4 separate regions of the Homo sapiens genome follow, and regions 1, 2 and 3 are each linked to region 4. The links come from fine-mapping of genetic effects on gene expression. A gene starts in region 4. Each other region holds a variant in brackets. All regions are shown on one strand. Distances are between the middles of the regions.

Region 1 (8,107 bases), 35 kb after region 4:
TACTCTGCAAGTACATAGGACCACATTTACCTGGGAAAACAAGAATAAAGGCTGCTCTGCATTTTTTAGAAACTTTTTTGAAAGGGAGATGGGAATGCCTGCACCCCCAAGTCCAGACCAACACAATGGTTAATTGAGATGAATAATAAAGGAAAGACTGTTCTGGGCTTCCCAGAATAGCTTGGTCCTTAAATTGTGGCACAAACAACCTCCTGTCAGAGCCAGCCTCCTGCCAGGAAGAGGGGTAGGAGACTAGAGGCCGTGTGTGCAGCCTTGCCCTGAAGGCTAGGGTGACAATTTGGAGGCTGTCCAAACACCCTGGCCTCTAGAGCTGGCCTGTCTATTTGAAATGCCGGCTCTGATGCTAATCGGCGACCCTCAGGCAAGTTACTTAACCTTACATGCCTCAGTTTTCTCATCTGGAAAATGAGAACCCTAGGTTTAGGGTTGTTAGAAAAGTTAAATGAGTTAAGACAAGTGCCTGGGACACAGTAGCCTCTTGTGTGTGTTTATCATTATGTCCTCAGCAGGTCGTAGAAGCAGCTTCTCAGGTGTGAGGCTGGCGCGATTATCTGGAGTGGGTTGGGTTTTCTAGGATGGACCCCCTGCTGCATTTTCCTCATTCATCCACCAGGGCTTAATGGGGAATCAAGGAATCCATGTGTAACTGTATAATAACTGTAGCCACACTCCAATGACCACCTACTAGTTGTCCCTGGCACTGCTTATACATATGTCCATCAAATCAATCCTATGAAGTAGATACTGTCTTCATTTTATAGATCAGAGACAATTGGGGTTCAGAGAGCTGATGTGATTTTCCCAGGGTCACAGAGAGTCCCAGATTCAGGCACAACTCTTGTATTCCAAGACACAACCACTACATGTCCAAAGGCTGCCCAGAGCCACCGGGCACGGCAAATTGTGACATATCCCTAAAGAGGCTGAGCACCTGGTCAGGATCTGATGGCTGACAGTGTGTCCAGATGCAGAGCTGGAGTGGGGGAGGGGAAGGGGGGCTCCTTGGGACAGAGAAGGCTTTCTGTGCTTTCTCTGAAGGGAGCAGTCTGAGGACCAAGGGAACCCGGCAAACAGCACCTCAGGTACTCCAGGCCCTCCTGGCTGGAGAGGGCTGTGGCAATGGAAAATTAGTGCCAACTGCAATGAGTCAGCCTCGGTTAAATAGAGAGTGAAGAATGCTGGACAGGAACCTCCACCCTCATGTCACATTTCTTCAGTGTGACCCTTCTGGCCCCTCTCCTCCTGACAGCGGAACAATGACTGCCCCGATAGGTGAGGCTGGAGGAAGAATCAGTCCTGTCCTTGGCAAGCTCTTCACTATGACAGTAAAGGCTCTCTGCCTGCTGCCAAGGCCTGTGACTTTCTAACCTGGCCTCACGCTGGGTAAGCTTAAGGTAGAGGTGCAGGATTAGCAAGCCCACCTGGCTACCAGGCCGACAGCTACATCTTTCAACTGACCCTGATCAACGAAGAGGGACTTGTGTCTCTCAGTTGGTTCCAAATGAAACCAGGGAGCAGGGGCGTTAGGAAGCTCCAACAGGATGGTACTTAATGGGGCATTTGAGTGGAGAGGTAGGTGACATAGTGCTTTGGAGCCCAGGGAGGGAAAGGTTCTGCTGAAGTTGAATTCAAGACTGTTCTTTCATCACAAACTTGAGTTTCCTGGACATTTGTTTGCAGAAACAACCGTAGGGTTTTGCCTTAACCTCGTGGGTTTATTATTACCTCATAGGGACTTTGCCTCCTGACAGCAGTTTATGGGTGTTCATTGTGGCACTTGAGTTTTCTTGCATACTTGTTAGAGAAACCAAGTTTGTCATCAACTTCTTATTTAACCCCCTGGCTATAACTTCATGGATTATGTTATAATTAAGCCATCCAGAGTAAAATCTGTTTAGATTATCTTGGAGTAAGGGGGAAAAAATCTGTAATTTTTTCTCCTCAACTAGATATATACATAAAAAATGATTGTATTGCTTCATTTAAAAAATATAACGCAAAATCTCTTTTCCTTCTAAGGGCCTTTAATATGTAATAACAAGAGCTAATGTTGAACACAAGCCATTGCCAGGTACTTAAACTGTCTCACTTAGTCTTGCCAACCTAAGCAAGTAGATGCCATTACTATTCCCATTATATTGATGAAAAAATGAGGTTGAGAAAGGTTCAGCCGCACAGCCAAATACATAGTGGATCCAGGGTTTGGTCCCAAGTCTTGAGTCCAAAACCCTGGTTCTTACCATTACTGTGGTTCTGTAGGGGTGAAAAAATTTTTCTTCTAATCTCTTAGGTTCAGAGCCTGGGGCCTGAGAATTAAACTGACAAAGACAGATTAACAGAAGACAAAGTTTATTACGCAGGTACATGGGGTTCTTACAGAAACAAAGTGAAAACCCAAAGAAGTGGCTTGAGAGCTTATATACAATTTTAACAATGGGCGATTGTAGAAAAGTGATAAGACAAAGGAAAAGAGGTTTGAGCTTCTTGGGCAGTAAATTATGGGAAGTTAAATATGTGGGGGAAACTAATGGAAGATAAGGGTATTTTTTATTTTATTTTATTTTATTTATTTTGAGACAGGGTCCTGCCTTGTCACCCAGGCTGGAGTGCAGTGCTATGATTGTGGCTCACTGCAGCCTCAACCTCAGCCTCCTTGGTTCAAGAAATCCTCCCACTTCAGCTCCTGAGTGGCTCCAGGCAAATGCCACCACACCTGGTTAATTTTTTAAATTATTTTATAGAGACAGAATCTCGCTATGTTGCCCCTGGCTGTTCTCAAACTCTTGGCCTCAAGAGATCCCACCTCAGACTCCCAGAGTGCTGGGATTACAGGCTGGGTGCTGAGCTATCGCACATGGCCTGTATTAGCCATAGACTGAGGGGAAATACATTTTCTTGAGAGCCTCAGCCTAGTGATCACTTGTATGAATAAACAATGATGGGTGGCTGCCAAAGTCAGAGAGCAAATACTGCGTGTGACAACTAAGTGTGGGAAGCTCAGTGTGGGAAGAAAAAGCTTCCCAGTTTCAGACATGCCCCTTAGTAGGGACAGCTGCCTCTTGTGTTTGGACAAAGTGTCCAAGTTCAAGTGTTTCACACACACACTGTTCCGTCTTCTGTTTGATCACAACCCTATGAGGCAGCCTGGTTTTCTTATTTCTATTTTATGGAAAACCTACTTAAAAGTCAAGCAACTTGTCCAAGGCTACCCAGCTTGAATATCTGACTCTCTCCACTTTGCTGCTACACACACACACACACACACACACACACTTTGCACTGTGTGTGCAGATACATATGCATATATATATTTAACTTGTGAAGCTGATACTGACTCTTTAACTGCCCTCCACCCATCACTAGTCATACCAGTGATCATTAGGCAGAGGCTCTCAAGAAAATGTATTAGTTATTTCCCCTCAGTCTATGGCTAATACAGGTTACTCACATAAATGAGCTGTCATGTCCTTTGGACAAAATGTCCAAATCGCTCATAAGCAATGGGTGAAGTATTTGAGGTAGGGCGGACAGGATTTCCTTTTGGTGGTTAGCTCGTTGCCTGTTAGCTCCTGGTGATATCTGTGTTTGGAAGAGAACTAAACTGCATTTCACTGAAAACACTCCTTCAGGTCTATTACAAACCAGATGAGGATCCCCTTTTCTAGAATCTTCCTCAACACTGCTAACGTTTGGCAGATACATAGGTTGGCTCTAACAGCCATTCCCAATCAATCCTCTTCTCCTTTGTCTGCCTCCCACAGTAGTGGATGAAAAATCAGACACTGATTTTCTCAGACTTCTTTGCTGTGGGCGCGGCCAGTGAGGCAATGAGGTAAGTCTGCTGGTGCAGGGGCCAGGTTTCTAGGAAATACTTTTCTCCCTCATGGGAGAAAGAGAGGAAGCCTGAAGTAAGCTTTCTTCTGCAGCCCTGGCCCGCTGCCTGTTCTGGATGAGGGTATGCTGGGATATGACAACGGAAGCCAGCGGGGTCGCAGAGCAAGAGCGAGGCGGTGGGCGGAGTCGAGGGACGGGAGGCGAGGCGAGGCGAGCCAGGGGGCGTGGCTTTCTAACTGCGGGGTGCGGCCAGCCGAGGTGGGCGGGGCCGCGTTCCGGGA[C/G]GTGGTCGTCCGGGCTTTGGAACCCCGCCTGTTAGGGGCCGGGCTGAGGCGAAAGGGTGGGGCCGCGCTCCATCGGGGCGGGGCTTGTGGAACCTCGAAACCCCGGCGACTCGGGGCCTGAGCGCGCGTCTCCCGGCGCGGGGTTCCTCCCACGCAGACCCTCATTCAAACGATGCCAAAGGGGCGGCGCGGCAGCCACAGCCCCACCATGAGCCAGCGGTCGGCTCCGCCCCTCTATTTCCCGTCCCTGTACGACCGCGGCATCTCCTCGTCCCCGCTCAGCGACTTCAACATCTGGAAGAAGCTCTTCGTGCCGCTGAAGGCGGGCGGGGCGCCAGTGGGCGGGGCGGCGGGGGCCCGGTCCCTGTCCCAGGCGCTCCCCGCCCCGGCGCCCCCGCCCCCGCCACCACCCGGCCTGGGTCCCTCCAGCGAGCGCCCCTGGCCCTCGCCCTGGCCCTCCGGCCTGGCCTCCATCCCCTACGAGCCTCTGCGCTTCTTCTACTCACCGCCGCCGGGGCCTGAGGTGGTTGCCTCGCCCCTGGTCCCCTGCCCCTCGACCCCCAGGCTCGCCTCTGCCTCCCACCCGGAGGAGCTCTGCGAGCTGGAGATCCGGATTAAGGAGCTGGAGTTGCTCACCATCACTGGGGACGGCTTCGACTCCCAGAGCTGTGCGTGACCTCGCCAGGGCCACCGAGCCCAGCCTTAGCCTGCCCTAGCTCCCTCCTTGGCTCCGTGCCCCGACCCGAAATGTAGCCTGGTTTGACTCCAGCCCCCAGTAGTCCCAGATCCAAAATCTATCCCCTAGCACCCAGACTCCCTTATCCTGGACTTAACCGACTCCTCCCCCCACCACAGATCTGAACTTCATGAGCCTCTTAGTCCCAAACTCCATCCTCCCTCCGTCCTAAACCCTTTGGGTCATCTGGACTCTGAGCCTCCACACCTGGAACTCCATCCGCCACCACCCCGTCCTGAACTTTAATCCTCCTGCACAGTCATCCTCCTACCCTGTACTCTGGAGCTCCACCCACCACAGACAGTCCCTAAGCTTTAATGTTCGGTCCTAAACCGGGGCTCTCCATGGGGGGAAGGTGAAGTAAGGTGACTGTCAGTTGTCTGTAGGGGGAGGTGGGAGTTGTGCAAGAACCACAAGGCCCAAGGCCGTTTCCAGGGCAGCTTTGGGACACTCCACTTCTCAATGCTGGGGGGCAGCCCCCCTGGGACTCTGTGGCCTTGGCGCCGGTAGTTCTCTCACCAGGATCCTGGGCTGATATCTGGTCTTACGTCTGAAGTCTTAGGGCTCTGGACCACGTGTGCTGATGCGGGCAGGATCCCTCAGCCTACGAGCTGAATGACTCCTCCCTGTTGGAGGGTAAAGTTGTTAAATGCCTTGTACTCCAAGAAGGACCTATTGCAAAGTAGAACTTTCAGTAGCGGTAGGTTGTCCTGCAGACTTTGTCTTTCCCATCACTTGTTTTGGCTAAGGCTTGTCCTTGACCACTGGAGAAGGGCAGATAGTTCTAAAAAGATCATTCCAACTATCGTATATAACGGCTTAAGTTGGCTTCCCCTGCCACACAGAGAAGGGAAGTATGAAATAACCTAAATGCTTAGGTCCGTGTGGCCATGGAAATGGTCTTCAGTTCATCAGACACACTGTAATGCACCCTTTCTCATAGCCATGGAAGGAAGACAGTCCCTAGAAAAACTGGGCTTTGCTAAGTCCTGGATTTCTTAACTATGAATACATACATAATACTATGTATTCATAGTTAAGAAATCTTAACCGAATACATAGTTAAGAAATCCAGGGGCCGGGTGTGGTGGCTGGCACTTGTAATCTCAGCACTTTGGGGGGGCCAATGCGGGTGGATCATTTGAGGTCAGGAGCCTGACCAACAAGAGGATCATTGAGGACCAGCCTGACCAACATGGTAAAACCCTGTCTCTACTAAAATACAAAAATGAGCCGGGCTTGGTGGCACACATTTGTAATCTCATCTACTCGGGAGGATGAGGCAGGAGAATCGCTTGAACCCAGGAGGCCGAGGTTGCAGTAAGCCAAGATTGTGCCACTGCACTCCAACCTGGGTGAAAGAGTGAGACTCCCTCTCAAAAAAAAAAAAAAAAAAAAAAAATTAGAAGAAGAAGAAATCCAGGACTTAGCAACTCTGACTGTAAAAACACATGTAACTGGATGTGTTGCATGTACAGTCAGAACCAGTTACATGTTTTTACAGTCAGAGTTTTCAGTTTTTTGTTTTTTTCTCTCCCATCTTGGATCACAAATGGAGTTTTAGGGTCGAGGAAGCACAGTTGCTTCCCAAGAGTTTGCTTTGGAAGTGTTAGGAAAAGCCCTTATCTCTATTACGGCTAAGTTTGTTTTGCTCTCCTGCAGACACATTCCTGAAGGCGCTAAAAGACGAAAAGTTACAAGGACTGAAGACCAAGCAACCTGGAAAGAAGTCGGCCTCTCTCTCCTGAGGAGCTGCCTACCAGAGCTTGGGCAGCCACCTCCTTAGGTGTTAGTGCTTAGATAATGTGTCCCATTTGTTGTCATTTCAAAGATGGTTATTTTCTGTTCTGTATTTACCGCTGTTCTTGTTGCTACCAGCATGTACTTCACATACAGTGCCCACTTTGTGTGGTAAATCTCATGGTCTCTCTCCTCTCTATGTGCTGCTGAGGGAGCTCTCTCATGGTGTCTAGAAGCTGCTGTCCAGCCAGCATTCAAGGTCTCCCGAGACCAGGGAGGGAACCCCCAACACTACCACAGTCATGCAAACCAGAACAACAGATTATCAGGAAGGAATCGGGAGAAACCAAGGGCAATGTATATATTGGTTCTACTGCTGTGTCTCTGCTCAGAAAGGTTCTTTGAGGACTGGAATAGTGGAGGTTTGGTGTGTGGTTTGTTTTTTTTCCCAAACATATTTACTCCTTGGAAGTGGTTGGTGTTTTCATTTTTTTTAAAATGTTTTTTGGACCACAAACTCTCTGATAATCTTATCAAAGCCCTGGACCTTCCTAGAAATTCATATATTCAAGAAATATTTATTGAGTGCTTATTTTGTGCCTAGGCACTTGGGATTGGGGGTGGGGGAGAGACAGACAATAAATATTATAAATAAGTAAATCATAATATGGTATCATAGAAGATGACATGCTAAGGGGGAAAAAAAAGCAGAGTAAGGATTGCCAGGGTGGGTCAGAGGAAGGCAGGGCAGAATTTCACATGGGGTTTCTTGAAGACGTATTATTTAAACAAGGTCTGAAGGAGGTTGAGGGTCATAGCCACGTGACACCCTAGGGAATGTGCCAGGTAGAAGGGCCAGTGCAAAGGCTGCTTCAAAGATGGGAGCATGGCAGCATTTTTGAGAACCAGCAAACAGTCCAGATGGCTGGAGCAGGAGGAGTGAGGGGAGAGTGGTAGGGGTGAATACACAGGGGGCCCATTTGTATAGAGCCTTATAGTCACAGTAAGGACTCTGGGCTTTACTCCAAGTGGGACAGAGTCATTAGACAGCCTTCTGGGGAGTGACAGGATCTGACTTGTGCTGCTGTGATATGAATAGACTACCGGGGTGCAAGCAAGGAGGCAGGGAGAGCAGTCAGGAGGCTGTAGTAATTAATATTCCAGCTAAAAAGACCATGCTGAGCCCGGCGTGGTGGTGCACACCTGTAGTCCCAGCTACTCAGGAGGCTGGGGTGGGAAGGATCGCTTGACCCCAGGTGTTCAAAGTTACAGTGAGCTATGACCATGCCACTGGCATGCCAGCTTGGGCAACAGAGCAAGACCCTGTCTCTAAAAATTAACCAAGTAAAAGATCATGCGGGTAGCAGTGGGTGTGGTGAGAAGTATCAGGCAATTGAAGCACAGAGTGGTAATCTAAGATAGGAGAACACAGGTGGAACAGGTTTTGGTGAGAAGGAGGAGCACAGGTGGAACAGCTTTTGGGGAGACAATCAGC
Region 2 (8,107 bases), 48 kb before region 4:
CATGTGTTGAACAAGAGAAGCTGGGTCAAGCATTTGAGGATGCTTTTGAGGTTCTGAGGCAACATTCAACTGGAGATCTTCAGTACTCGCCAGATTACAAAAATTACCTGGCTTTAATCAACCATCGTCCTCATGTCAAAGGAAATTCCAGCTGCTATGGAGTGTTGCCTACAGAGGAGCCTGTCTATAATTGGAGAATGGTAATTAACAGTGCTGCGGACTTCTATTTTGAAGGAAATATTCATCAATCTCTGCAGAACATAACTGAAAACCAGCTGGTACAACCCACTGTTCTCCAGCAAAAGGGGAAAAGGCAGGAAGAAGCTCTGACTGTTTGAATACCTTCACGAATCCCTGTGTAATCCAGAGATGGCATCTTGTTTTCAGTGGGTAGATATAACCAAAGGCATCTTTCAGTTTGTATCAAAAAACAAAGAAAAACTTGCCGAGCTCTGGGGGAAAACAAAAGGCAACAAGGAGACCATGACTTACCAGAAAATGGCCAGGGCACTGAGAAATTACAGAGGAAGTGGGGAAATTACCAAAATCTGGAGGAAGCTGACTTAGCATTTCAGTGAGGCCATTCTCCAAAGACTCTCTCCATCCTATTTCCTGGGGAAAGAGATCTTCTACTCACAATGTGTTCAACCTGATCAAGAATATCTCAGTTTAAATAACTGTAATGCAAATTATAATTATACATATGCCAATTACCATGAGCTAAATCACCGTGATTGCTAAATATACTCTCATATTTCATGGTTTACTGTAATCAAAAATCCCTACAAGTCTTAAGGATTTCTCTCTCTCTCTCTTTTTTCCCTCCTCTGAAGAAATTTAGGATTTTTCTCTTAAAGCAAATACTAAAGAGGAAAAAAATTAACTATATTGTTGCTTTTATCAAAGAGCATGTAATCTATACTAACTTGTTGGGAAATTCTGCCAATGAACAACTTTTTTATAATACTTTGTGAAGATTCAGTGAACAACTTTATTGTTTCAAATGATCAAGCACATTTGAAAGTATAGACTAAATGTCCTTGCTCTGCTCTTACTATTCTCTTTTAAAATTTTTATTTTTTTATTTTATTATTTTTAAAGAGGTGTCAGCCAAGATAATCTTTTATTTTTATGGATTTAGGAGTACAAGTGCAGTTTTGTTGCTTTGATATATTGCATAGTGGTGAAGTATATTGTGTAGCATCCTCATCACCAGAATAGTGAACATTGTACCCAATAGGTAGGATTTCATCCCTCATCCCTCTGCCATCCTCCCACCTTTTGGAGCCTCCAGGGTCTATTACTCCATTCTGTATGTCCATGGCTAAGCTCCCAACTATACCCACTTTATTTTATTTTAAAAATTGTTTTCTTTTTCTGCATACTTCAATGGATGCAAAGTCTTTTTCTTTTTTCTTCTTTTCTTTTCACAGACGATGACTTCTTTTTGTTTGTTTGTTTGTTTGTTTTTGGCTACTAACTCCCAAGCTCAACACTGACAGTGACTTATATTTTTAATTTTTTTAAGAGGCAAAGCCTACCTCTGAAGCTCTTTTTTCTTTTCCCACTTCAATAAGCTGATCTAAATTTTTGTTATTCTCTATGCAACCACCTTCTTCTAGATTAACAGTGCCAGTACAGATGATTTTATTTATATATTGATTTCAGCGTTTTCTTGTCATGTACTCAGGTGAGAAAATTCACACCTTTATATCTGATGGCTTTACAAAAAAATTTTGTCAATGACTGCATATGATAAAGCCTTTGTGCCAAAATGGGTTCATGGCTTTAAAAACATCACTAGAAATGTCTATTCAGGTTCCTTACACATTTTTTTCTTTCCTTCTCTTTTATCTTACCCATTTTTACAACTTAAAGCTTTTTTTTTTTTTGTGAGACAAGGTCTCACTCTGTCACCCATGCTCAAGTGCAGTGACACAAACATGGCTGAAGCCCAGCTAATTTTTTTTTTTTTTTGTAGAGATTGTTTTGCCGTGTTGCCCAGGCTGGTCTCTAACTCCTGGGCTCAGGCGATCTGCCCACCTTGGCCTTCAAAAGTGCTGGGATTACAGGTGTGAGCCACCGAGCTGGCCCCAAAACTTTTTTAATGTTTAAATTTTACCACTATATTAAGGAGGAGTTACCCATTTTTTTAATTGCCTTTTTTCTTCCTTCTTATTAGGGAGGGGTAAGGAAGAAGACTTGGTCAGCAGAAAGCAGGCCTTAATTGCTTTTTTGTTTGTTTGTTTCATTGCTATTGAGTTGTTTGAGTTCCTTATATGTATTGGATATTAACCCCTTGTCAGATGTCTGGCTTGCAAATATTTTCTCCCATTCCATAGGTTGTCTCTTTACTCTGGTGATTGTTTCCTTTGCTGTGCAGAAGCTTTTTAGTTTGTTTTAGCTACACATCATGAACTAAGAAGCTCTTTAGTTTGATGTAATACCATTTGTCTATATTTAATTTTGTCGTCCTTTTGGGATCAAATCCAAAATATCATTACCCATACCAATGTCTTGTATGTTTCCCCTATGTTTTCTTTCTTTCCTTTCTCTTTCTTTCCTTCCTTCCTTCCTTCTTTCAGCTGTCATCTGACCCCCCTATGTTTTCTTCAAGTAGTTTTAGGGTTCTTGGTCTTATGTTTAAGTCTTTTTTCTTTTCTTTTCTTTTCTTCTCTTCTCTTCTCTCTCTCTCTCTCTTTCTTTTTCTTGTTGACAATTTTCCTGAGCAAACTAATACAGGAATCTTTATGTTTTTAATCCATTTTGAATTGACTTTGGTATATAGTGTTGAAATAAGGGTCCAATTTTATTTTTCTGTTTGCCAAAATTCAGTTTTCCATATACCATTTATTGAATAAAGCTGTCTTTTTCTTTTTGGCAAAAAAAAAAAAAAAAACTGAGTGATATAAGGAATAAGGCACCATGGGAGCTATCCAAAGCAAAGTCAGCGTCCATGTTCATCAAGGTGTCCTCGATCTGAGTTATGAGAACTCTCCATCCATTCCCTGAAGTCTAAATGGGAGGAGGGTATTGTTGCTTGTGTTAATTAATTATTTCTTGTGTCTTAGCTTGGGCCTACCCTTGCATAATCTCAGTGATGTGGGGCCTGGAAGGCTGAACACTACATTTCCCTGATGCTTTAACAAGCTGAGTTGCTTTTAGATACTGGGAGGTACTCATAGAAGAATGGAAAGCAGGGAGCGAGGAGGATTCTCTCGCTGTTTTTCAGCTTCTGCAGGCCTTCCTCTGAAGGTCCTCAGGCATTCTGAACCCCAGCCCCAGAGTTCCCTTTCAGTATCCAAAGCATTAGGTATGAGGTTGTCCCATATCAAAGGTCCAAGTACCAAACAAGAGGCACCCTCTTCAAGTAGGTCCTCTCTTCATAGGACATGTCCTGTATTTACTGATTGTGTCCTGTATCCTGTGTTGACTTTGTCAGGATGCCCTAAATGCCCTCTATTCATATCTTTCAGTAAACAACAAAATATTGCCAGTTAGAGCTACTTTTCTGCCATAGTAGTTAAATCTTAAGTAACCTAAACGCAACATAACTAAAACCCATACCTCTGCAAATAAAGTCCATATGGTCTCTACTGCAGATTTGGCTGAGAGTAGACCAAAAGTGGGGATTCAGAGGAAAAAGTACTGATTTTTCATATTCAAGGAAGGAAAAGATGAGGCAGGGTGCAGTGGCTCATGTCTGTAATCCCAGCACTTTGGGAGGCCGAGGCAGGTGGATCACCTGAGGCCAGGAGTTTGAGACCAGCCTGGCCAGCATGGTGAAACCCCGTCTCTACTAAAAATACAAAAATTAGCCAGGCATCATGGCGAGTGCCTGTAATCTTGGCTACTCAGGAGGCTGAAGCAGGAGAATCGCTTGAACTCGGGAGGCGGAGTTTGCAGTGAGCCTCGAGATTAAACCACTGCGCTCCAGTGTAGGCAACAGAGAGAGACTTCGTCTCAAAAAAAAAAAAAAAAGGAAAGAAAGGCAAAGATGATTATTTGGTCCAAGTCTCAAGTCATGAACAAGTAACCAGCATTAATTAGAGATCACTTATGGTCTGAAAAATCAACCAGTGACAGACTCACTCTAATAACCACATATCTAAAAGTCAGTAAATCACTGATAGCCCCAAGCTTGTGAAATTCAGCCAGTGACAGCCAGCAGATATTCAGTATACCAGCTCATAATGCTATGTTGAGCATGTTTTCTCAATAATGAATGTTCAGTGGGCAAAAGAATAAGTTGGCTATGAACACTGTATAAACTGTTACAATGTAAATGCAATATAGACAGTAAATGCAAGGAATTTTATAAACAAATTCTGCAAAACTAAGAAAACTTAAGGAGAGCCAAATCATCAGGGAAGTATAATTAAATAAAGAGGTAGGTAATTTATGTGCTTCTTCAGTTATTTCAGATAAAGAATGATTTTTATCATGCTTTATGTGGTATTCTTATTTTATTTCAAAGTATATATGCATAGGCAAGTACAAATAATTCAAATTTAATTTTTTTGGG[G/T]TTTTTTTTCCATTTTAGTTCAGTTATTTCCCTTGTTTTTTGTTGGTGGTGGTAATGCTGATGGCAGTGGTGGTGTGTGAGCCTGTGTGTGCCTGTGTGTGTGTGTGTGTGTCTGTGTCTGTGTGTGTGTGTGTGTGTGCACTAAATCTGGCAACCCTACCTTCAAGGTTTTGAGCATCTGCTGTGTGTTACCTGCCATGAGATACAAGCACCAGCTGTGAGGTGTCCTCTTTCAGAGATCTCAACGCCAACTTCGTGGGACCTCTCTTGAGAGAGCAGAGCATTAGGCCCTCAGGGAGCCCATGGCTCCTCTTTTTAGCCCTGAGGTTCTATAACCAAAGATCTTTTCCCCTTTGCTTCCACAGCCCTATGGTGAGAACTATTTCTGGCAGTCTGTCTTTGTTCAGGATGCTGTAACAAAATACTGTAGACTGGATAGCTTATAAACAACAGAAATCTGTTTCTCGCAATTCTGGAGGCTGGGAAGTCCAAGATCAAGGTGCCAAGCAGATTCACTGCTGAGGGCCCACTTCCTGGTTCATAGATAGTACCTTCTAGCTGTGCCCTCACGTGGTAGAAGAGGCAAGGCAGCTTTCTGGAGTTCCTTTTATAAGGGCACTAATCCTGTTAATGACCTAATCACCTGTCCAAGGCCCCATCTCCCAAAACCATCACTTTGGGGGTTAGGATTTCAACATATGCAGTTTGGAAGGACACAAACAGTCAGACCATAGCACTGTCTTGATTTCTGGATTAGCTCAGCATTCATCCTTTGCTCTTTCAACCTTCCCATATATGTTTAACAATTCCTTGTATTAAATCTCTTTTGAAATACCTAGCATGGTTTCTGTTCCCCTAAAGTACTTGGATACTCTCAACTGTGTGCTATTCCAAAAAAGAGTGTGAGGAGAGAGTGTCCTCTTTCTGATTATACTCTCCTCTGCCTGTTCCTCAAGTCCTGGGTGCCTAGTTGTTTGGCCAAGGCAGAAGGTAGTATGGTGCTGTGTAACTTGTAGCCCAAAACAGCTAAACCTACTAGGCTTGTAGACATCATCAGGTCACCGATGGACAGACTGGCACAGTTGGCCAAGAGTATGAGCTTTTTCAGTAACAGTGGCTACTATGTGTGTTGATGAAAGAATTCCTGGTTGGGTATCCCTGGTCTTTTGGGTGGTTCCATTACTGTGGTGAGTTAGAGCATAGATTCAATGGGCTGTGGTAGGTAGACATGATGCCCATATATGCTTGATCAGTCTTTTCAGGCAGCTGTTTTCCTCTAGATTTTGTCACTTATAATCTTTTCAATGGGGAGATCCCATAATTATGTCCCAAAGGCACATAATTAATATGTGCCTTTATTAATTCAGTCTTTAGGTGGCCCATGGCCTGACTAAATAGCTAGGCTATTACTGATGTTTCTGTGTGTGATGGCCATGGGAATATGCCACTCAGATCTCCTGCTGCAGGTAGCACAGTTGACAGACAATGCCAGTCTGCGGCTCACCATGCTTTTGCATCAAAACCATACCTCCCCTGGGCTGCTCCTAGCCAATGGCTGAGCATGGCAGGGGATTAGTGCAGGCCAATTCTGTGTGTCTCTGGACTTTCTACCAGGCAGCTTTGACTCAAGGACTCTCCACTGGCCTGTCTGAGACATTCTCAGAGCTGCAGTCCAACCCGAGACTCTCCCTGCCAAATCCGCCTTCTTTCATCTTCTCTTTTCACAGGTGTCAGACCTGCATCGTGGTCTGAAGGCACTCCTTGCCTACTCCTGCTTCCTCTCTTTTATCCTTCATAAGACTTTCCTGCCCTCTGCCCAGCCCCCGAATATATCTCTCATGAATCTAATCCTATCTTCACATTTGTTTTTTGGAGAATCCTAATTGACATATTGTGTAAAGGTTCATTTCCATCAATCTGGGAGCAGTATGCTCTACAGCCAAGAATAGCACCTGAAGTTTGGCCAATTATTCAGCATGCAAGCGTTGTGAGCCTCAGCAATTTATGGCATTGGTATTCCATGGAATTTGCCCATCTCAGAGACAAGCTATTTCAACAGTGAACCATGCTTCTTGTCAGATGCAAGTCTTGTCAAAGAGGCCCCAATAGGCCAACAGCTTAGGTTTAACAGTAGGTGGGTCTCTCCATGTCTAATGGGTGGGCAGCCACCTGTTGTTCCTGAAGTTGGCTAAGGTATTGGGGACCAGACTTGAACCTTGTAGGTTCAAGTTGTAGGTGCCATTGGTTGTAAGTGCCATTTCCATATTGCTACAGAACTTTCTGGGTATCTCAGTTCGGACAGGACCCAATGCAAAGTGACAATGTCAGGTGGCAAAGTCATCATTTTTCCTTTCAGTGACATTCTCTTTTTCCAGAAGGGGCTAGTTTCAGGCACAGCAGCAGAAGAAAGTCCTTGCAGGCTTGTCCTTGGTAAGAAGGTGGAGTCTCATTTCCAAAGCCTGTAATCACTGTGTGATTGATCATTGATATCTGTAATTCCATCTGAATAAGATAGGAGGCTCCAGGACAAGGTTTGCTTTACTGATGCCTGGATCACTTTCAAGGCTTCTTGCCATAGGTGTCCCCTTCTCAAATATAGTTAATTATTGGGTATATAAAGCCTGTTGTGGAATTTCCAGGTATAAAGGGTGATGTTTCCAAAACAGGCCAATCAGAGGTTAGGCATTCATCCCAACAGCAGCTAGTGGCCACAAGATTAGAACTTTGACTTTAATAGAGGATAGAATGTCTTTTTGGACTGTCGCACAAGAAGCCCCCAAAAAAGATGGGTGGCTGAATTGTTTCTTCTTCCTTGGAAGCCCATTCATCTTTGGTCAGCTTTTCTAAGCTGGAATGCAGTGGAGTTCATGTAGTACATTCGGTGGTGAGGTCATCGAGAGAGTGGAATGTTTGGCCCCAACCAGCAGTTCTCATTTTGTCAGCATTTGTTCAGCTCTCTGACAATGTACAATGTACTCCTGGGGAGTTTGTTACAGTACTGCTTGCCTTGGTGGATAAGGGCAAGTGATATCAGTCAGAGACCTCTCAAGAAACAGACAAAACATGCAAAGGAACATAACTAAACAGAATTCAGTGGGGACAATACTAAGAGAGTTATGAACCAGATAAGGGAACCAATGCGGGACAGTGAGGTGCCCAGGGATTAGTAATGGGGTGGGGGAGGGAAGCCGTTACCAACCCTGAAAAAGCAAGAGGCACAGTTCTAGCAGCTGGAGGGAGGGAACAGTATCATCAGAGCTGAGTGAGCTGGAGGTAGGAAAGAGGGCGCTGACAGGAGCTGTCTCCACCGAGGAACACAGCCCCAACCAAAATCCCAGGAGGTGGAGATGTATAAATACCTGAATGTCACTTTTCTCTGCCATTGTTCTCTCTTTGTTATCTGGCTTTCTCTTCCAGAAGCCAGATAACAAAGAAGCCCAGGTGAAGGAGTACCTAAAGATCAGCCTCCTAGGGCATGGAGAAGGGTAGAAAAGGTATAAAGAGTATTTTTTCTTTTTTTTTTTAAGCATTAGCTGGATGTGGTGGCACAAGCCTGTAGTTCTAGCTACTCAGAAGGCTGGG
Region 3 (8,107 bases), 46 kb after region 4:
GCAGCTAGTAAATAGGAGAGGTAGAATTCAAACTCAGGGCTGACTCCAGAGCTTGTGTTCTGGTCCGCTGGGCCCACAAAGCCTCCTGTGAGCATAATGAACAGAGCAGTGTGGGGAGTACAGAGGGAGGTCCACCAGGTTCCTGCAGGAAATGCGTGGAACACCCAAATTGGCTAATTTGAAGAGCGTTTAATAAAGGGATTATGCTATAAACTGAATGTTTGTGTCCTTCCAAAATTCATATGTTGAAACCTAATCCCCTGTGCAATAGTATTAGGAGGTGGGATGTTTGAGAGGTGATTAGGTTATGAGGGTGGAGGGTGGAATGAGATTAGTGCCTTTATAAAAGAGGCCCAGCAAGCTTATTCACCACTCCTACCTTCTATGAACTAGGAAGCTGGCTCTTACCAGCCACCGAATCTGCTGGCATATTGATCTCGGACTTCCCAGCATCCAGAACTATGAGAAATTTCTATTGTTTAGACACCACCCCGTCTATGGTATTTTGTTATATCAGTCTGAATGGACTAAGACAGAGTGTTTACAAAGGTGCAGGCAGGGAATGCGGATTATCACCCACCGAGCTGTTGCTAACCCTAGGCGGGTAGGTGTGAGAGGAGGGAGTGGTTGCCAGAACCTGAGAACAGACAGGGCTGTGTGGAAAGGGTCCTTCATAAGTGTGACCCTTGTCTAGGGCCACAGGTAGCCCACAGTGACCCTGCTGAGGGGGAGCCCCTGCAGGGAGGGAGCCCCTGCAAGAGACAGATGGGGAGCACAGTGAGGTCAGGTCTTCCAATACATGTAAATACTGGTAGGGGGTGGTTTTGGTGTTGGCTAGGTTGCTTCCCACAACTTGGCAAGAGAGAATGGGGTTGATAGTTTGGTAGTATTACAGCCAAGGTCCCAGAAATGCCCACACTCAGGCCTGCCACCTCCCCAGTCACCCCATGGCTTGGACTAACTTTGGGCACAGGTCCTGTTACCGTCGGTTGGTGGGATGTAATTGTCATGTAATTGACAGCCCCTCAGAACAAAATGAAACAAAAGAGGCTGTTCCTCAAAGAAAAGGGCGCTTGGCAGAGGAAAGCAATAGAGAGCTTGATTGAGAGAACACCACATGCAAGGAATAATAGATAAATGCAGTGGTGTGCCGGAGCCAGTTTCTATGGGCTCACGAGAACTAATTGCCAAATTTTCAGGAATGTTATGAGCTGGTTATTAAATACAACCATTATTAAAAATTTAACCATATCAACTTTTAATTAAATCATATTTAAGACGAAGGTAACAAATATTCACAATTCATCACTTCCTAATTATTTTGCTACAGTTCTCTATCATCTGTACTCCTGAGCTCATTTATGCCTGTTGTGTCTGTGTGGTCGAAATACTACATAATGGTGTGCTAATGTGCATATCTTCTGAATGATGTCATGTGGGGTTTTTTTAAACTGGCCACGGGGAGTGTATTTACAACAAGGAAATTGGCAAATGTACAAATCAGGGTTGGCTCCCTCGGACCTCCACTGAGAAGAGCTGGTTGAAAAGAGTTTACCAGCACGCCACCAGCGACATGAAAAACAAAAGCCCCGCTTTATTTGTGGCTGAGCTAGAAGGAAAGCTGTTTTGGAGCATTCAAAGCTGGGATGATGGTATAAATGAAGCTCGCTGCTTCCTCTGGCTTGATTTGCCCACTCAGTGCCAGACAGGAAAGAGGCAGACAAGAGCCTGATTCACCCGTCCGTGGAGGCAGGCTTGTCCTGGGTCTGACTATTGCATGAACTCAGGGAAGAAGGAAAGCCCAACGTGCTGACTTTATTTTTTCTTTTTAATGCTTTTTAGAGACAGAGTCTTGTTCTGTCGCCCAGGCTGGAGTGCAGTGGTGTGATCTTAGCTCATTGCAGTCTCGAACTCCTGGGCTCAAGTGATCTTCCCACCTCAGCCTCCCAAGTCTTTGGCTAATTTTTAAATTCTTTTGTAGAGGTGGGGGTCTCACTTTGTCTCACCACCAGGCTGGTTTTGTACTTCTGGGCTCAAGCAATCCTCCTGCCTTGACGTCCCAAAGCACTAGGATTACAGGTGTGAGCCACTGCACCTGGCCCCCATGTCCTGACCTTTAAGATGTAGTAAACCTATCCACTGGGAAAGTGGGGTCAAAGGAATTGTCCTGGACTCTGGCCAGTCAGATCAATTAGCGATCTTTACTTTCAAGAAACTAGGGTAGAGGGAAAGCTGAGGTAGAGGCCTGTAGATGGAGGCTGAAGGCCTTCTGCAGTGCTGACTGTTTGGGCAAGATGAAGCATGAAACCTGATAGAACAGATAACCAGCTCTTTATATCATGATCCTTTCATCATAAGCTTATTACTCCTGAGAGAAATATAGACTTCAAGTGTGATGGGAAGACCTCCTGCTACCTTATCCAAGTCACCTGTGCCCACCCTCTGTGCCAAAGCGGTCAGGCAGGGTTCAGTGGAAGTCAGCTGGGAACAGAAGGAAGAGACATTTAATTACTGCTTTACGGCTTTTGTTCTCACTGGAGGTAAATACCTTGTTGGTGCCTCAGGGAATATTGGCCTTTTCCTTTGAACTCTGTCCTGATTCTGACATTAACCAGATCTGCGACCTTGGGAAAGTTACCCAGCCTCTCACAGCCTCTTTCCACATCAGGCAAATGGAGACGCTGCTTTCACAGGATGGGGGCTGGGAGTGGGGACAACAACAAAAAATGACAGATGTGAAACTGCCCCAAACTGGGAATCATTTTAATATTATTTTCCTGTTTGTGTAGTACACAGCCCTCATTGTTGAGTCACTGGTGCTGGAAGTGGTGGTGGCCACGAGATGTGAGCTGGAGGGAGGCCCAGTCCACAGGGAGGGAGAAGCATTCAATGCGCAGGCCCTGGAGCTCAGCCCCATAAGCAGCGACAAAGGGGGTGAATATGGCTGGGAAGCAGTTTGGGGAAGAGGGGTTTGTTTTCTAGAGGGAGCCAACCACATTCCTCCCAGGCAGTATCACATGGCCCACACCCAACAGACAAGGCCAAGGGCATGGCCTCTCTGTAGGCAGTCCCCAAAAGGAAGGGTGGATGGTCACCACCCAATCCTGTCATTCTGTCCACACCAGCGCATGAGCATATCCGAGAACATATCTGTGCCGAGCTGCCATGAAAGTGACTAAATAGTAATAACTTGCATTTGTCAGACTTCCCACCTAGCAGAAGTTTTGTGATTCATGAGGACATCCTGTTTCTGAGTAAGGAATCTTATCGTGATTTCCTTAAACTGTTGACATAGTGGTTAATGCATGCCTGACATGGAAAAGGATGCTGATTTGCTTCTGAATCATGAAGTTTTGCTGATTTGTTTCTGAATCATGAAACTTTGCTGTCTTGCCCGTAGACATTTTAGCCTGTAGGTTGTCATCTGTAGCCAGTGACTAATCTCTCTATTATACCTTCCAATAACAAAAAGACAACTCTTTGTATGAAGAGTCCTCCTCCCCTCTTCTAAACCTTCCCATAAAAGCTTTCTAACTTGTAACAGACTCTAGGACACTCCCAGCTTTGTTGGTGTGTCTTCCTGGGTCGATCCTCACATTTGGCTTCCAATAAACATTTATCAAGTTATTTCTGGTGAAACAGCTGTAATTTCAATCGACAATAGGAATCCAGAAAATCTATGATGCAAAGCTGAAGTATCACCTATTCCAGGTGCTCTTTGGTTTTGGGGGGAAACAGGCCACTCAAACTGACTTACTTGAGTAAAGAGAGTGACTGGCAATGGGCTTCTTGGATCACAAGCAATAGAAACTAAACTAAGGGAAATTTAAAAAGGCATCATCTGAACAAGGAAAGCAAAGGAATGAGGTGCTGCCACTGGACAACTCAGCTCCAACTACCAGTTCTTAGAAAATGTGATTGGCCCAGCTCGGGCTACGTTTCCATCTCTGTCCATGTTGCGGAGGAGGTGGCCAGGGTCCTGTGGTTGCATCCCCACCAGAACCACTTGGAACTGTGGAGCAGCTGCTTCCCAAAAGAAGGACCCTGGCTGCCAAAGATACATGGCTCCCTCATGGGCCTCGCGCAATTGGCACCAGGGCCTGGAAGCCACCAGGAGCCCAGGCAGCTCCCCTCCCATCTCTTTTTCACTGCATCCTCCTGCCTTTTGCAGTCAGCTTCCTTCCAACTTGGCTCCCAGGGAACTCACAAGAGTGGCATCAGGCTCCAAGTACACATGATCGCGAGCAGGCTGCTCTCCGTCTCTCATATTTTCTCCCCAAGAAATGGTAGTTGGAGCTGAGTTGTCCAGTGGCAACACCTCATTCCTTTCCTTCTAAATGTTCGGACGACACCTTTCTTAGTTTCCCTTAGTTTAGTTTCTGTTGCTCATTATCAAAGACACCCATTGCCAGTCACTC[T/C]CTTTACTTAAGCCAGGAGGAATGGCAGGGTGTGGCTAAGTATGCCCAGTTTATTCTTCCCCAAATTATGAATCACAAGTCCCCATCCATCACTGGGCATTGGGCGGGTAAAGAGGCAGGAAGAGGCCAGGACTCCCGTACTGCTCTTGGAAGGAAGCTGAAGGGAAGTGCTCCTCTCCCAACAGCATGGATGTCACTTCCTCCAGGAAGCCTTCCCTGATTCCAGTCCCCAGTCTGGGCTATGTGTCCCTTCTCTGAGCTCCCTTTGTACTCTGGGCATCCCCTTTCCTGGGACTTACTACCTGGATTATAATAGCCCATCAGTATGTCTCCCTAGCTCGACTGCGATCTTCTTAAGGGTAGGGCCTGTGTTGTCATCATCGTCATCCTGAGCACACGGTTTTGCACAAAGTGGACACTCCATGTGCTTAAGGAGCACGTTGCTGGCTGCGGATAGAGGGGAAAATGCAGTCTCAGCCTTGTGGTTTGACTTATGGTGGAAACGTCAATTGCATAAAATGATAAGAAAGGATGATCTAGATGCAATATCCTGGGACTCATCTGGGCCAAGTGCCTTTATGACAGGCTTGGGGATGGGGTCAAGATGTACCTTGAGTTCTTTACCAAGATTCAGAGACAGGCCTAAGACAGCTCTTTTTATCTGAGAAGTGGTATATAATTGCTGGATCTGGGGTCATACTGCCTGGGTTGAAATCCCAGCACACACCAGCTGTGTGACTTTGGACAAACTGCTTAACCTTTGTGTCTTTGTTTCGTCATTTATAAAATGAGGAGATTATATAGTACCCCCACTTCATAGGTTGCTATAAGGTTGAAGTAAGTTAATATGTATGAAGTACTCAGAACAATGCATAGTCCAAAGCCAGTACTCAATAGATGTTAATTATTCCATCTACTCATTCACAGAGTCAGCCAGGATTATCACTGTCATTTCAGAGTTTACCTGAATCCAGTACAAACATTCTGTAACTCTGAAAACAATGCATATAAACTAAGCCTGCATTCATTTACTCCTTTGTTTACTCATTTATTCATCCAATTGTTCTTTCAAAAAAAAAATAGATTCTTAACTCTCTAGGCCCTTTTTCTCATCTGGAAAAGGCGCACAATAATTCCCCCAGCCTGGGGTTGTTGCCAGTTACCTGAGATATGTATGTAAACTGCTCAGCTCATGATGTGACAAACAGCTAATGCTCACCATCATCTTTGCCTCTTTGGGTTCACTGGGCAATTTGCAACAAGGTTTCTGGTCATTAACACAAAATCCCCACATTTCTCTTATAGTGGGATCCACCAGGTGGCAGCATGGATTTAGACATGGGATGAAACGGTCTCCCCTTTCTAGTCCTCTCACATCCAGGGCTGACATTTATTAGCCTGTTCATTATAACCTAGGGAAAAATCCAATTTAGAAACCTTTTGGGAGGAGGAGACACTACAGCCATTGAAGGCTTTCATTGCAAAAATAAACAGGCACAGCACCTGGCCTTTCCCAGAGGCCTGCAGGTGGCTGTCTGCTGAGAGCCACATCTTACTCACCCAGGGAAAATCTGCTCTTTGTAGAACTGGTTTCAAGATGAAAAGTTCAGTTCACATGAACAAGAGAAGCTGGGCTGAACTCATTGACTCTTACTATGTGTATTGGTCTGCTTGGGCTGCTGTAACCAAATGCCACAGACTGGGTGGCTTAAAAAACAGACATTCATTTCTCACTGTTCTGGAAGCCGGGAAGTCCAAGATTAACCTGCTGGCTGATTTGGTTCCTGTTGAGGACTCTTTCTGGCTTGGAGATGGCTACCTTCTTCATGAGTCCTCATATGGCAAAGAGAGAGCTCTGGTGTCTCTTTCTCTTCTTATAAGGGCACTAATCCCATGATGAAGGCCCCACCCTCATGACCTCATTTAAACATAATTCTCTGTCTAAGGTTTCTGTCTCCAAATCCCATCACTTTGGGGGTTAGGGCTTCAATATATGAATTTAGCGGGGGACACAATTCAGTTCATAGCATTATCTACAATGTATTTCTAGTTTTTGTGTACTCTTCTGTTTGTCTACCTAGTTCCTATTATTCAGACATATATCTATTTATATAGACTATTGTTTATCTTTTTATTGTCTGTCGTTATTACTAGCCATTAATGTTGGGATGATCTTAGCACTGTCCAATAGAACTTTCTGAAATGGCAGAAATGTTCTATATCAGTGCCATTTACTATGGTGACCATCAGACACATGTAGCTATTGAGTTTTTAACATGTGGCTAGTGCAACTGGGAAAGTGAATTTTAAACTTTATTTCACTTTAGTTATTTAAATTTAACTTGAAATAGGCACGTGGCTATTGGTAACTACCATAGTGGACAGCTCAGATCTGAATAGAAGAATATATCTGCAGTTTCCCCTCTTAATTGATTAGATTGTGTTGAGTCTGGGAAGAGGTAATATTTGGGATTTCATGCAGGCTTGATTTCCAGAGTTAACTGTTGTGGGGGCAGGCAAAATGGCACATCTTTATAAATGAAGAAATAGGCTCAGGGAAATGAAGTCACTGCTGAAGCTGACACAGGGGGTCAATGGCTGAGCCTATTCCCTCCCTGCAAGGCTCCAGCTGGCAGCTTCTTCTTCTGTGCAGTCCTCCAGGAATCCAGGTCCCTTCTTCTCTCTCTTGGAGGTGACTTAGGAAGAGTCACTGGACAATCAGAATAGGCCCACTTGTCCAGTGTGTGGCATGTGAGTATGCGTGTTTGGGTGTATGCATGCGTGTATATGAGCAGGCTCTTGGCAGAGATTGTGTAACCTGCTACACAGAAACAAGGATGATGTGCAAATATGAATTGTCCACTGCGCCCTCCCCAATCCAGTCCATAATAACTGTTTATTTTAGGTGCATTTCAGGGACTGATGTCATTTTATAGTCTGTTTAATGCAACCATTCTAACGGGCCCGTTAGAGCACTGGAAAAGATGTGGTGGTGTCTGAGCACAGGAGAGTCCAGTCAGGGGGTTAGAGACACCCTTGGAGCTTCTCCCAAGCCCTGCCAGCTAGCAATTGCCAGCTACTGAGGAATTGCCAAGTGCCAGGCCCTGGGCTCAGCACCCTACATACAGCATCTCATCAATATTTACATCCCAACACATGAGGAAAATGGCCCCAGCCCCCATTTTATAGAGGCATCGAGAGGCATCTAGCTAGGATGTGGCTGAGCCACTCCAAAGCCTGAAGTCTTAAACTCTTAGCTCTTTTCTTCAGTGACTGGCTTCAAACTATTATATTTTCCCTGTTGTCCTTTAGCCCACAGCAGCCAGCTGATATGGAGAATGTTTGTGTGGGCAAACGTCTTAATTGCCAAGGGTATGGACTCCAGAGTGGGGACGGGCAAGTTCCCTCCTGATTTCATCACATGCAAATCATGCACATGCATCACTTTAACGACACTGTCCTTGAGCTGGTACAGGAGGAGACTTATGGATTTTCCCCAAATATAATCTTATTTTCCATGAGCTTACCATATGATTCTAGGAGTGAGTTCCATGTCATTTTTTTTTTTTTTTTTTGATAGAGTCTTGCTCCGTGGCCCAGACTACAGTGCAGTGATGCTATCATAGCTCACTGTAGCCTCAGACTCCTGGGCTCAAGTGATCCTCCCTTCTGAATAGCCAGGACTACAG
Region 4 (8,107 bases):
GGTAAGTACCCACTCTCTGCTTCAAAGATGGCACCTTCTTGCTGTGTTTTATGTGGTGGAAAGAGCAAACAAACTTCCTCAGGCCTCTTTTATAAGGGCACTAATCCCCTTCATGAGGGCAGAGCCTAAAGGCCCTACCTCTTAATACTATTGCTTTAGGGATTGGATTTCAACAATTTGGGGGAACAAAAACATTCAGACCATAGCGTCAAACCACTTAATTTTTTCAAAACCGAACTTTTCCAATAAAGCAGTAATCAAAAACTAGTAAATCTTGGCAATTAAGGCTGGCCCTGGAATCCCTTGCCATTTTTTCTTTCTCTTTTCTGATGACCTCTCTCTCTATTTCCAGAGTACTTATGATGCCCCAAATCTCCCTTCCAACCCTGTCTAACCTTTGCTCCTCAGAATGCTTTGATTTGCTTTATCCTCTCATCAGAATTCACATTCTCTTAGTATGTTGAATGAGTGACCTCTAGTTCATACTGAGGTGTAGTTTTTTGTTTGTTTTTTCAGACAGTCTCGCTGTGTCTCCCAGACTGGAGTGCAGTGGCATGATCTCGGCTGACTCCAACCTCCGCCTCCCAGGTTCAAGTGATTCTTATGCCTCGGCCTCGTGGGTAGCTGGGATCACAGGTGTGCACTACCATGCCCTTTTTTGCATTTTTAGTAGAGCCAGGGTTTCACTATATTGACCAGGCTGGTCTCAAACTCCTGTCTTTAAGTGATCCTCCTGCCTCTGGCTCCCAAAGTGTTGGGATTACAGGTGTGAGCCACCGCGCCCGGCCTAACGTGAAGTTTGTTGGTAACAAGCTTCTGTATTTTCTGCTATTGGCAAGAATGCTTATTCACACGTAACAGGAATTTAACAGTTGGCATTAATGTTGCCCAAACCAGACTCTACTTTTGGTGGTGAAAAGGCCATTTCTGGCTCTGAGGACCCTTGAAAACACAACTGATTTTTTTTACTAATTTCTCTGAGGCTTGATATATCACTAGAATAAGACAAATACCTAAATTAACAGTAGCTTAAATAGTTTGGGGGTGGTTATTCTTGCGAATAGTCAGAGGTAGCTAGTTCAAGGCTGACATGATGGCACAGTGGTGTTATCAACAGTCCAGATTGGCTCCATCTTTCTGACCTGCCATCCTTAGCACAAGACTTTTCCTCTCAAAGACGATCATGGTTGCATACTGGCTGCTGCAGGCATATTGTATTCACAAAAGGATGATGATAACAAGGTAAAATGAAGTGGAAAATGAAAAGTGAGGCATGAGGCTGGAGAGGTAAACTAGCCAGGTCTCTAGCAGCCGTGTGGAGGGCAAGCAGAGAAGGGGCAGGGGATGCAGGAATTGACATGGGCAACATGGGGACCTGGTATTAAGGAATTGTAATGGCTCAAGCAACGCAAACTACAGATCTGAATTAGCACAGTAGCAATGTGAAAAAGGAATGAAATTGAGATATTGAAATGGTAAAATAGGCAGGAATGGCTGAGTAGATGTGAGGGAGTGGAAGAGGTCAACGTTGATTCCTAGGTTTCTGTCTTCATTTATGAAAAAAATTCAGGAAAAGCAGTCACTCTTTAAAGATGAATTCAGATTTGTGCACATTAAGTTCAAGATGTCTGTGGAACATATAAGTGGAGATGTCCAGCAGTCAGCTGGATATGAATATGAAGATAGGGGGAGTGGTCAGGGATGGAGACAGACTTTTGAATCATCTGCAAACATACATCCCAAGGTAAAAGAGTAGATACACTATAGTCTCCCAGGGAGCACACACAGCCATGGTTCTCAGTCTAATCCTGGGACACCAAATTATTAGTGGGTAAAGGAAAAGAATCTCAAGACCGAATGGTCAAGAAACCATTCTAGGGAACCAAACTAGGAGAGAGTGGCATCTCAGAAGCCAAGCGTGTCAAGGAAGGAATAGCTAACAGGATGTGTGTAAGGTATGTACACAAAAGAGCTTTGGAATCCATCTTGGGAAATATACAGTATTAGCTGTTTTAAGGAGACATGCTTTAAATATCAAAGCAAGTCATCCTGATTTAAAAAACTCCCACTTGTATAGAGGAATACCAGGATTTGAGCACCACCAAATGGAACTCATTCCCTGACATCCCAAAGCCATCAGAATAACAGTAGAAGCGTCAAGACAGTTACTATATGATTTTCCCTGCAAGACATTCAGTAATCTATGATTCCCCCTGCTTAAATTTTATCTCATGCCTTCTTCCCTGACCAGTTCAACACAAGCAGCCCTGAGATGTAATATCTTCTCACCCTGACCCTCAAAGTGTGTCTCATGCTTTCTAACAGAGGCCATCCTCTTGGAGGAAGACTTGTACTTTTGGCCTGTAGCCCCACCCTCCCTCCTATGGCGTTCTTACAGTCAGTTCTGCAGTGAGTGGGACACTTTCCAAATATAATAGCAAATGGAAACTTCTAATTACATCTGCACATAAAACTAATGTTCCAAATGGTGGTTGCGGTTCTGGTGAGTGCTTATAATTTTTTGTTACCTCAGCATCCATTTTTGAATATGTTTAACTTTTAATAACAGAAGCAAGTCTCAGTCACCATTGACAGTTTCCAGTACTATACCCCACGCAAATGGCTCTAGCTGGTGGCCAGAGATAAACATGCAGTGATGTGATAACAGGGCACTACTGCAGCTTCAAACTCTGGTTCAAGTTCCTCCCACCTCTGCCTTTTCACCTGCTTGCTTTTAAATCCACCAGTTAGAGCTCTCCAGAGGAAACCTAACTGGATAAAGTTGCTGGCCCAAAGGTCCGTTCCTCCCTTCCCTCTCCCTGTTCTCCCTGATCTCCGTGTGTGTGTGTGTGTGTGTGTGTGTGTGTGTGTGTGTGTCCTCTAGGCAAGCTGTGTACCACCCAGGGTCCGTAAGTACTAAAAACTCTTAAACTTTCACACCGCTGTGTTATTGAAACCATGCCTACAATCCAGTCCCTGAGGCGAGGCCACCCTGAAGGGACAGACTCATGCAGGCGGATCCCCTGGTCTTGCTCTTCTGTCCCTGCCTCTGGTGGCTGCTGGGGAACAGTAGCTACCAGCTAAGTTGATAGAGACACTCGAAGAGGTTCATTCAAAACACTGGTCCCCGAGCAGCCCAGTAAGCTTTTAAACGCATAACATTTTGTTTGGGTCTCAAACAAGTCACAAGGCACGGATACGGATGCGGCTGTGGCTGATGGCTATTTGGATGCTGCCCAAGCCTCGCAGTAGGAAGCAGCTTCAGACTGCAGCAGGGCCGCATAGCCCGATAGCCAGGCCCTGGGGCACCCAGGGCACCAGCAAGACGCACAGAAACGTTTTGAAAAACATTTTAATATACTTAAAAAAAAAGTAAAAGGGAAAATCAGAAGTCTTTGGAAGTTTCCTACTGTTTTTATGTCCCATAGCAAATCCGAGGAGGACGCCCCAAACTTTCAGTTCCCTGGGGTTTTGAAGGTGCTCATTGGGTCCTGGCCACCCGGCCTTCTCAGAACCTGGGCCAGGAGGCTGAGCTCCGCGCGGGGGTGGAGGGAGAGGAGGAGGTTCCTGCCGAGGTGCGGCTGCGCGGTGCGGGAGCCGGGAGCCTGGGAGGGCAAGGGCATCCTGAGGGGCGGGGCCGGGGGGCGGAGCCTTGCGGGCTGGAGCGAAAGAATGCGGGGGCTGAGCGCAGAAGCGGCTCGAGGCTGGAAGAGGATCTTGGGCGCCGCCAGGTAAGAAGGCCCGAAGGCCTGCTGGGGTTTGGGTGAGCCGAGCCGAGGTGGCGGCGGCAGTCTGGGCCCGGGCGGAGGGTCTGTGGGGGCTACCCCCGTCCTCGCTTTCCACTCGACCCCTGCCGGGCGAGCCTCCCGAGGCCTGGCCCTTCCAACCCGTCACCGCGGCCCGGTGTCCTAGCCGAACGCTGGCTTCATTTTATCTACGAGGAAGGAGAAACGGGGAGCGCGCCCTCTCCCAGAAGCAGCCCCGTTACCCCCGTCGCGCCCCCCATTCCCTCGGGGGCAGCCTCGCACCCGGGCCCCTGCCATCGCTTTCGTCTCAAGGGAAGCTCTAGCGGTCCAGAGAAACTGCGCCGGGGGAAAGGCCAGCCCTCCGTGGTCACGGCAGTTCCTCTCTCCCCTCGCGGTCTAAATGTGTAATTTTGAAAAGCAGGTGTCGGGCGAAACGGACTTTTTTTTTTTTTTGAGATGGAGTTTCGCTGTTGCCCAGGCTGGAGTGCAGTGGCGCGATCTGGGTTCACCGCAACCTCCGTGTACCGGGTTCAAGCGATTCTCCTGCCACAGCCTCCTGAGTAGCTGGGATTACAGGCATGCGCCACCATGCCTGGCTAAATTTTGTATTTTTAGTAGAAACGGGGTTTTCCCATGTTGGTCAGGCTGATCTTGAATTCCTGACCTCGTGATCCGCCCGCCTCCGCCTCCCAAAGTGTTGGGATTACAGGTGTGAGCCACCGCGCCCGGCCGAAACGGACGTTTTAAGTACAACGTGATGTTTTGTTTTCTTGGGTCGGCTCGGGCCGCACCCTTCTTAGAGTCTGACTGCTGACTTTTCAAAAAACAACATTAACCCGGGAGGCTGAGGTAGCGGTGAGCCGAGATCGCGCCATTGCCCTACTGCCTGGGCAATAAGAGCGAGACTCCGCCTCAAAAACGAACAAAACCCACAAAGAACAAACAAAAAAAACCAACATTAAGCAGTGTGCCTTTTATGGCCGTTTAGTGATACCCAGGCTCTTCACTGGTCATTTCTGGAAGTATTTAACAGCACTTGATGGGTAAAACAATAGGCTTCACTTCACAGGGTGGTTGAGATGATTGACGGAAAGCGCTCAGCACAAACGCGGCGGCTGCTAATTATTTCAGGTACCCTGCGATCCCTGAGCAGTTGTTCAAGTTCTCCACTCCTGGCGGTTTACTCCCAGTTCCCTGAAGAAGGCACAGAGCCCCGAATGTTGAGGGAGATGGCAACGTTTGCCAAAATGTGGCTATTTACGTGGCAGTTTATGAAGGAGAGGCAGAAAGGGAGGCTGCCTCCCCTACAAGCCAAACAGTCCTAAAACTTGTGGCCTCTGTATTTTCACAGTGGAAACTAGAAACTGTTTGCTGAACTTAGCTGTAAGAAAAACATCCCATTAGCTGAGTGGCTTAGGAGATAAAAGCCTAAATAAAATGGATCTTAGGGTGAGAGAGTGGGGTGCCTAATGGCATTCATCTTTGACAGCTGCTGGTAGAAGCTCTTGAAAAGTAGAGCATGGAAAATTCTGGGCCACCTCTTTAAGAACCTCAGCCAAACCGCCACAGACATTGCCAAGCCCAGAAGTGCTTGAGGCTTTCTAAAGGCAAAGACTTCTTTTTACTTATGTCCTATATCTTAGGAAACATATTCACTAAACCTTGGTTTTGCATGTGTACTTAACACGGGAGGGGCCGTGAGTGCGGAGATAGGACTCTTTGGAGAGTTAGGGATTGGCATTCCGGAACAAACTGCAGGAAAGGCCCTTGTAGGGGAAGCTGCAGATTTGTTTGGTCCAAAGAGTTCTGGCCTAATAAGTGGGAGCTGACCAATGAGAACACTTGGACACAGGGAGGGGAACAACACACACTGGCGCCTGTCGGCAGGTGGGGTGGGTGGGGATAGAGCATTAGGAAAAACAGCTAATGCATGCTGGGCTTAATACCTAGGTGATGGGTTGATAGGTGCAGCAAACCACCATGGTACACGTTTACCTATGAAACAAATCTGCACATCCTGCACATGTACCCTAGAATTTATATGTATATCACACAAAGAGTTTTGGAGTGGTTATTCCTGGCATGAGAACCTTGGCTGGATTGGAAAGCCTTTTCCGTTATGATGGTTGTTTTCTCTTTGTCTCTTCCTGCTGATGTAATTTGTTCCGTGAACTGAGTGATGGATGTTTGTCTGGGCGCTTCAACAGGCATGGCTAGAGCAGGTATTGTGTATGTCTCCAAGGTGACACGCAGACCTGGGGTTCAAAAGCTCTAGTTCTCTGACATTGCTGACACTAGGTATCTTGTGAGTTGCCAGCCCCTGGCGAATAGAAACAAGATCCATCCAGGGTGGTTTTGCGACTAACATGTTGCCTTGGGACAGGTAATTTCATCCCACTGGGCCTCCACTAATTTCCTATAAAATAAAAACATTGGGTTTTATTTTGAGGACACTTCTAGCCTTAAAATTCTTCAGTCTGTAAGGCCTCAGGCTCCTAGGAGGAGTAACCATACTCATGGGCAACTGTGAATCTTGTGGAAACACCACTGATGTCAACTCTCTTCTCTAATGACCTCAGCTTAACTAATGTATTTCAGAAGCTGAATTTATAAGAAGTCTCCCGTCTCCCCACTAGAGTTTAACTATGGTTCGTTCACTCAGAGCTTAGACCTGGGTTTAAATGCTGTTCTACCAGTTTCCAGTTCAGAGGTTGCTATAATAATTTTAATAATTTTTTTTTTTAATTTTGAGACAGTCTCTCTCTGTTGCCCAAGCTGGAGTGCAGTGGCACAGTCTTGGCTCACTGCAACCTCCACCTCCTGGGTGCAAGCGATTCTCGTGTCTCAGCCTCTCAAGTAGCTGGGATTACAGGTGAGTGCCACCACATCTGGCTAATTTTTGTATTTTTTTTAGTAGAGACAGGGTTTCACCATGTTGGCCAGGCTGGTCTGGAACTCCTGGCCTCAAGTGATCCACCCGCCTCAGCCTCCCAAAGTGCTGGGATTATAGGCATGAGCCACCACACTCGGCCTTATAATAATTTTCTACTGCTGCTGAAACCACCACAAATTTAGCTGTTTCAAATGCCACAAGTTTATTAATCTTTCCATTCTGTAAATCAGAAGTCTGACACAGGTCTCACAGGGCTGTAATCAAGGTGGCAGGGCTCTGTGCTGCTCTGGAGGCTCTAGGGGAGAGTCTGTTTCTGTGCTCATTCAGGTTCCTGGTAGAATATAGTCCTTGTGACTGGAGGACTGAGGTTCTGTTTCTTTGCTGAGTGTCAGTTGAGGACCATTCTTAGCTTCTAAAGGCCGCCTGTGTGCCTTGGCTTAGGGAACCCTTCGTGTCTTCATCTCATTCTTCAAATTTCTTGCCTCTTTTTCTGTTGTCGGTCATGAGTCTTTGACAGACTCTGCTACCTTCTTCCTCTTTCAATGACCCCTGGGATTACATTGGGCCCATTGAATAATCCAAAATAATCTCCTTAATCTCATCTACAAAGTCACTTGCCATGCAAGGTCTCCTGTTTTCACAGGTTCCTGGAGTTAGGATACGGACATTTTTGGGGAAGAGAGGCATTATTCTACCTACCACATAAGTTAGTTGCATAAATTAGTTCTCTTCCTCAATCTTGTTTCCTCCCCCTGTAATTGGAGGCAAAGGTTCAGTTTACCTTATGGTATTATTGTGAGGATTAACTCCAGTTACTATGTCAAGAGCATCTATCTTAGCAACTGGCCCTTGATATTTGCTCACCAAATGGAAGTTAACACAGGAACAAGGTGTATTAGTCCATTCTCACACTGCTATAAAGAAGTACCTGAGACTGGGTAATTTATAAAGAAAAGAGGTTTAATTGGCTCGCAGTTCTTTGGGCTGTATAGGCTTCTGCTTCTGGGAAGGCCTTAGGAAACTTAGAATCATGGTGGAGAAGGGGAAGCAAGAATGCCTTACTTGGCGGGAGCAGGAGGAAGACAGCAAAGGGGGAAGTGCTACACACTTTCAAACAACCAGATTTCCTAAGCTCTGCCACAAGACAGCACTAGGGGGATGGTGCTGAACTGTTAGAAACCACCCCATAATCCAGTCACCTCCCACCAGGTCCCTCCTCCGACACTGGGGATTAAAATTCAACATGAGATTTTGGAGGTGTATTAGTCCATTTTCATGCTGCTGATAAAGACATACCGAAGACTGGGTAATTTGTAAAGAAATAGAGGTTTAATGGACTCACAGTTCCACGTGGCTAGGGATGCCTCACAATCATGGCAGAGGGTGAAAGGCACGTCTTACTGGCAGCAGACAAGACAGAAATATGAGAGCCAAGTGAAAGGGGAAACCCCTTATAAAACCATCAGCT

Direction of the effects. Alleles are on the strand shown, and positions count from the first base shown. SD is a standard deviation of normalised expression in the study named. Not every link is listed here.
In carriers of allele T in region 3, the expression in esophagus mucosa of the gene that starts at base 3,690 in region 4 tends to be lower than with C alone (small effect, 0.36 SD a copy in GTEx).

Evidence for each region.
Region 1: its variant is fine-mapped to the expression of CD59 in whole blood (TOPMed, PIP above 0.99).
Region 2: its variant is fine-mapped to the expression of CD59 in whole blood (TOPMed, PIP above 0.99). The same link has a PIP of 0.9 or more in blood mononuclear cells.
Region 3: its variant is fine-mapped to the expression of CD59 in esophagus mucosa (GTEx, PIP above 0.99).

What each region holds. Positions count from the first base shown.
Region 1 is chr11:33,696,942-33,705,048 of GRCh38, reverse strand. C11orf91 (chromosome 11 open reading frame 91) reads left to right here and starts at 4,223. Exons shown (of 2, transcript NM_001166692.2): 1 at 4,223-4,804; 2 at 6,535-6,788. The coding sequence starts at 4,309. The coding sequence ends at 6,620. It overlaps CD59 (CD59 molecule (CD59 blood group)), which reads left to right. Exons shown (of 4, transcript NM_000611.6): 4 at 1-2,039. RefSeq lists silencers at 4,048-4,287, 4,468-4,557. The variant C/G (reference allele first, on the strand shown) is at 4,137.
Region 2 is chr11:33,779,685-33,787,791 of GRCh38, reverse strand. It overlaps the pseudogene SPICP1. Among named protein-coding and RNA genes, the nearest start is that of FBXO3-DT, 9.0 kb to the right of the region's middle. The variant G/T (reference allele first, on the strand shown) is at 4,526.
Region 3 is chr11:33,685,711-33,693,817 of GRCh38, reverse strand. No RefSeq gene overlaps it. Among named protein-coding and RNA genes, the nearest start is that of C11orf91, 11 kb to the left of the region's middle. RefSeq lists an enhancer at 2,492-3,691. The variant T/C (reference allele first, on the strand shown) is at 4,419.
Region 4 is chr11:33,732,006-33,740,112 of GRCh38, reverse strand. CD59 (CD59 molecule (CD59 blood group)) reads left to right here and starts at 3,690. Exons shown (of 4, transcript NM_000611.6): 1 at 3,690-3,731. RefSeq lists a silencer at 3,572-4,041 and an enhancer at 7,531-7,660.